2 separate regions of the Homo sapiens genome follow, and region 1 is linked to region 2. Evidence: fine-mapped expression QTL. Tissue or cell type: hippocampus. Region 2 holds a variant in brackets; the other region holds the start of a gene. All regions are shown on one strand. Distances are from middle to middle. Region 1 holds the start of RESP18 (regulated endocrine specific protein 18). Region 2 overlaps PTPRN (protein tyrosine phosphatase receptor type N).

The links. PIP is the estimated chance that this variant, and not a neighbour inherited with it, causes the effect. A credible set is the group of variants that fine-mapping cannot tell apart.
Region 1: RESP18 starts here. The variant in region 2 is the best candidate, but not a certain one, in a credible set for the expression of RESP18 in hippocampus (GTEx, PIP 0.77).

Annotation. Positions count from the first base shown.
Region 1 is chr2:219,331,108-219,334,020 of GRCh38, reverse strand. RESP18 (regulated endocrine specific protein 18) reads left to right here and starts at 1,277. Exons shown (of 6, transcript NM_001441699.1): 1 at 1,277-1,497. The coding sequence starts at 1,392.
Region 2 is chr2:219,302,692-219,305,604 of GRCh38, reverse strand. It overlaps PTPRN (protein tyrosine phosphatase receptor type N), which reads left to right. Exons shown (of 23, transcript NM_002846.4): 4 at 1,774-1,870; 5 at 2,768-2,913. Among named protein-coding and RNA genes, the nearest start is that of PTPRN, 5.3 kb to the left of the region's middle. The variant G/A (reference allele first, on the strand shown) is at 1,711.

The sequences.
Region 1 (2,913 bases), 28 kb before region 2:
TTAGGGTGACTGAGTTTGGAGTTCAGGACCCGTAAAATAGAGAGTTTTGGTAAATGACTTTGGGTTATGTTGAAATCCAAAAAGGACCACACCTTAGCCATAAGCACCATATCCCAGGACTAAGAGATACAGGCTAGAATTGAGAATAGGATGAAGTACTCCTTCCCTAACCAGACTGCCACAGGATCAAGACTTTTTACCAAAAATTTAATTGCCTGCCAGAACAAACTCAAACTATTACCCTTTAAAGATAATAATATAATTCAGATCCTTTGTAATGTATCAACCCCAAATGTTCACTATACAAACCCTTAGGTTTAAGTAATCCACTATCTCGACCTCCCAAAGTGCTGAGATTACAAGCATGAGCCACCATGCCCAGTTTAATAAATGTTTTAAGCTTAATGAAAAAAAATTTAAATGCCAGTCTAAGAGTTAGAAAGCTCACAAACTAGCTTGTAAGTACACAAGAGTGAAAGCAAGAGGTCAGTTAGCTAGTTAGTTACTACAACAACTCAATTTAAAAGAGTACAGTGTCCAAGGCCTGGCATGGTGGCTCATGCCAGTAATGCCAACACTTTGGGGGGCCAAGGTGGGAGGATTGCTTGAGCCTAGGAGTTTGAGATCAGCCTGGGAAACATGGCAAAACCCTGTCTCTACAAAAATAAATAAATAAATAAATAAAATTGGCTGGGCATGGTAGTGTGCACCTGTAGTCCCAGCTACTCTGGAGCCTGAGGTTGAGTAGAGGTCGAGCGGAGGTTGTGGTGATCTGAAATTGCAAGACTGTCTCAAAAAAAAAAAAAAAAAAAAGTACAGTGTGCAGTGGTTTGGACCAAGGCGATGGCAGTGGATGTGGAGTAAAGTGGATGGATGTGCCATATATAATATATAATATATAATATTATATATATATATATAGCAGATCGAACCTATATGATTTCTAAAGGGTTTTAAGTGGGCCAGAGTAAAGAGTGTCAAGGATAATAAAATAAACTAAATTCCTTGAGTGCCTACTGTTTCATCGCTGTTCATATTTGATTCTCACAACAAACCTGAGTAGGTACAACTTGCACCCGTATCTTACGTGCCATCCGTTTCTGCAGCCTTAGGACTGGGAGTACAGGCGGTGGTTCTTGGGACCCAGCTAATGCCCGAAAGGAGCCGGGTCAGGAATTCCAAGAGATGAGGGTGGGGAGGCGGTAGGGGAAGGAGCTGGGGAGGCGACCGCAGGGGCAGGGCCCGCTCACGATTGGCTGAACTGCCGAGGAGGGTTAAACAGATTCGGAGTCGCGGGCTGGTGGGAAGCTGCAGCCCCGCTCAGCCCCTCGGCCGTGGCCGCTACCTTCACTGAGACTTGGCCGGGGAGTGAGCGCGCCGAGCCTGGGAGGATACAGCACCCACTGTGGCCTGGGAGCTCCGAGGGGCTCCAGCTGCTTGTCTGCTTCCTGCTGCTGAACAGCTGCCCGGGGGGCTGCAGCGACACTAGTGCCCACGGTCAGGAGGAACCCTGGGGGGTGCGGGCAGGGCCAAGAAAGCGATCCTGAGAAGTGGGGGTCTGCAGGGGGCCTCAAGGCTAGGAAACTTGGAAGTAAAAGAATGTGCTTAAGGACGTGAGAAGAGAAAAAGGTAGACAGCGTCTAGCGGAAAGAGGCATAGGCTTCAGATAGGCTGGGCATATGGGGTCTGGACTCACGAGAAGTGGGTTCAGGTGAAAATTGGGGATTTGGGAAGAGGTCAGAAAGACAAATGAACAGAGAGAGGTAAAACTGGCCTATGTGGCCACAGGAGAAGCAAGAAAGGCCAGAAAAAGAGTTGACCAGGGCTGCGGGTATCGGGGTCTTGGCTCCAGGGAGAAGGCTGGGCCAGGAGACGAGCCAGGGCTTCCTCGTGCTGTGATCCGGTTTCCAATAAGGGGACCGCTGAGGGAAAGCAGGATGGAGGGGGAATGGGACCATCCTTCTCCCCTTCCCCCGCACCAATCCGCGTAGACCCCGCGCTGACTCACGTGCCAGACTGCGCACACTCGAGAACTCCTGCGCAGAGCGCATGGGGAAGAGAGCGCAAACTCCTAGTCTGTCGCCCCCTCTCCCTGATTTTTGGTTTTAGAGGCCAATGCAGCGGATTCAGGAACAGCTGTGGGAGGAGGCCTGGTGGCAATGAGAGGATGAGGGCCGTGGGGAAGGACCGCCAAGCCTTGCGGAGATGTCTCGCCCACATTCCGCCCAGCGCCGCCGCCACGCTGGCCTCCCCACCTCTCAGCACCACGGACAGCGCCAGGCGCGCTCCGGGTCCACGCCGAGCCCGAGCGGGTCACCACTCCTTCCCACCAGTCCTGGGAACGCTGCCTCAGAGAATCAGCTCCCCTTCCCGAAGCTCTTTCCCTTCTCCTCAGGGTGTTGGAGGTTCCACTACTTCCTTAAGGAGGCTTTCTCATCCCCAAATGTCTCTACTTAAAACTTTGTCACGCTTACCCCCAGGAAATTATTAGACATCCATTTGACTGGGTAGGAGAATTCCCTTTTCTAAAGACCTGTCCAGAATGGCTCATGGTAACTACACTATAGCAAAAAACAGACTGTCCTCCAGCCCTATCTCACTGATCTGGAAGAAGGAAGGTGTGCATAGCATTAGGGGTTCTCTTCCCCAACCCCTGTCCTTCCTCTCATGCACAGTTGGGCAAACTGTGGGCTTCAGGAAAAGGATCCAGAGCCTCAAACCCTAAACAAACCAATACCTTTTCTAATGATTCCAGGCCTCCTCCCTAACACTTCCAGGCTTCAATGACTTCCCTAAGATGAAGCTCACCTGTTTCCCCATGCCCCACCTACCCACCTGATTACTATTCCCATGTGCTCAGCTTTCTGAGCCTCTGCGCATCTGAACTTCTACAGGCTGCTCTTTGTAAATCTG
Region 2 (2,913 bases):
GATTGAGTGTCTATTAAGAAGACCAAGGATCAAGTCCTAGATAATTCTTCTATTAAAAGGACCAGGCCAGGTATAGTGGCTCACACCTATAATCCCAATACTTTAGGAGGCTGGGGCAGGCAGGTCACGAGCTCAGGAGTTCGAGACCAGCCTGACCAACATGGTGAAACCTTGTCTCTACAAAAAATACAAAAATTAGCCAGGCATGGTGGCGAGCACCTGTAATCCCAGCTACTCAGGAGGCTGAGGCAGGAGAATCACTTGAACCTGAGAGGCAGAGGTTGTGGTGAGCCGAGATCGCACCACTGCACTCCAGCCTGGGTGATAGAGCGAGACTCCATCTCAAAAAAAAAAAAAAATGAGGACCAGGATAAAGAGAGGAACCATCAACTTCCTCTCAGGGAGACTGAGAAGGGGAAGCCAGTGGAGTAGGATTAAAAACAACAGTGTTCAGTGTCCCAGAAGCCAGGAGAAAGTGTATCAAGGAGGAGGAGTGACCAACAGTGTCAAATGATGATTACGGGATAAGTAAAATAAGATATGAAAATTGACCACTAGATTTGGACATGCAGACAAAGCTGCTCTTGATGAGAGCAGCTTTGGTAGAATAGTTGGGAATAAAATCCTGAATAAAGTGGATTAAGAGGGAATAGAAAGAAAGGAATTGGATACAGTCAGTATAGACAACTTTTTCTAGAAGTCTTGCTGCAAAGATATGGAGTGATCCCTAGAGAAGAAAGTGGGATCAAGCAGTATTTTTCTTAAGATGGAAGAAATTGCATATTGTTTGCATGGGAATAATGTGAATAATTCAGTAGAGAACAAAGGAAATTATGTAGGAAAGAAGAGAGAATTGCAAGGAGAATGTTCCTGAATAGGTGAGAGGGGATGAAATCTAGTGCTCAGAGGAACTGGCTTTAAATAGGAACACAGACAGCTCATCTAATGTGAATAAGCAAGGAGGCAGGTGTGGATGTTGGTAGATACCAGAATACAAGTTAAGAGCAGCACAGATTTTAAATCCAGAACTAGAGAAGAAAAAATGAGGGTGAAAAGTGGGAAATTATTCCTTTAGAATAAGTGACTGAACTTTCCTGAGAGCAGAGTTTTTTTGGGGGAAAGAGTCAAACAGGAGAGCTGTCTATGAATAAGATGATGATGATAATGGTGATGATGATGATGATGACGACAATGAAGATGATGATACATGTTTAAAACATGTGGATTATGCTTTAGAGTTTTCTAAGCACTTTGATTTCCCTGATCACACTTGATCTTCACAACAGCCCCCTGAAATATGTATCGTTTCCACTTTACAAACAGAGAAAGTTGAGGTTCAGGGTCAACACAAAGAATAATAACAATAGTAATAATAATTATGGTAATAGCATTTGTTAAAAGTTCACTACATGACAGGCACTATTCTAACCGTTTGATATGTATATGTGTTATTTTAATGATAATAACAATCCTAGGAGGTATAAATCCCCATTTTATTGATGAGGGAATTGAGGCTTGGAGAGGTTCAGCAACTTGCCCAAGGTTACATAATTCATCAGTAGCAAAGGCAGGATTCAAACCCAGGTGGTCTGGCTCCAATAGCTGTACCTGAGGGTGGGAAGAAGACAGCTCAGATCACCCACTGAGTTTGTCCCTCTACTCTGACAAACCCCATGAGCTGCAGGGCAGAGGGTACAGTTCTGATCCCCA[G/A]TGGTCCCCGTTACTGGATCCCCAGACTCCTGAACCAACTTACGCTGTCCTCTTTCCTGACAGGATTGTCCTGGCACGATGACCTCACCCAGTATGTGATCTCTCAGGAGATGGAGCGCATCCCCAGGCTTCGCCCCCCAGAGCCCCGTCCAAGGGACAGGTAGGCAGCCTTTCTCTACAACTCTAGCAATGGTGAGGCTGATGAATCTGTGGTTGTCCTAATTGATGGAGAGAAGGGGAAGGAAGTGGGCACCAAGGCCAGCATGCTGGGGCACAGGTAAAGAGGTGCAGGAATGGTCACTCTCTGACATGCTCACATGACCAAGAGGAGCTGAGCTCATCTCTAGGGATCCAGAAAAACGGGCATTTTTTGAATGTTTTGAAAAACATTGACATTGGCTACTTTAAAAGAAGCATCAATGTAGTCATCATGGGAGAAATTAGAATGCTGTTGGACTGAAGTTGTTCAATATTCCATTTCATTACTATGTGAATTTCTATATGACAGGAGCCACCATCATCTTTTTGTGGTTAGGGCCTCTAAAGGCATCATTCAGACTGCAAAGCAGAGGAAAGTAAATGAGGTTTAGGGAGCTCAGATGATGATACCAGGATGAAGATGGCATAGTGGTGGGGGGTGGAGGAGCAGTCCTGAATATTTGGACATATACTTGGAGAGCCAGGTGTGGGGACATGGCACACAGGGGCAACGGGGACAGCTGCAGCCACAGTTCATCTAGAGAAATTCCTGGTTGCCTTCCCCTGCTCCTGTTTGCCCCTTCTCCATCCCCAGCCTCATGATTACCCAGCCTTTGCAGTTGTTTCAGAGACTCAGCCATGCTCACCAGGGAGGCAGATACCTCTGCCCTCAGCTTGGCCCTCTGGTCCCTCCCCATTCCCACCCAGCCCATCTCTCTTCCCCTGAGGTCACTCAGTTTCTAAAGAGGTCAGGCCTGCTCTTAACCGCTGAGCCTGCCTGGCCCCGAATAGTTCTGCCTTGCAGGCTCTCTATGCCCTTTCCCCCGCTCCAACACACACACTTTGCTTTCCTCTACAGGTCTGGCTTGGCACCCAAGAGACCTGGTCCTGCTGGAGAGCTGCTTTTACAGGACATCCCCACTGGCTCCGCCCCTGCTGCCCAGCATCGGCTTCCACAACCACCAGTGGGCAAAGGTGGAGCTGGGGCCAGCTCCTCTCTGTCCC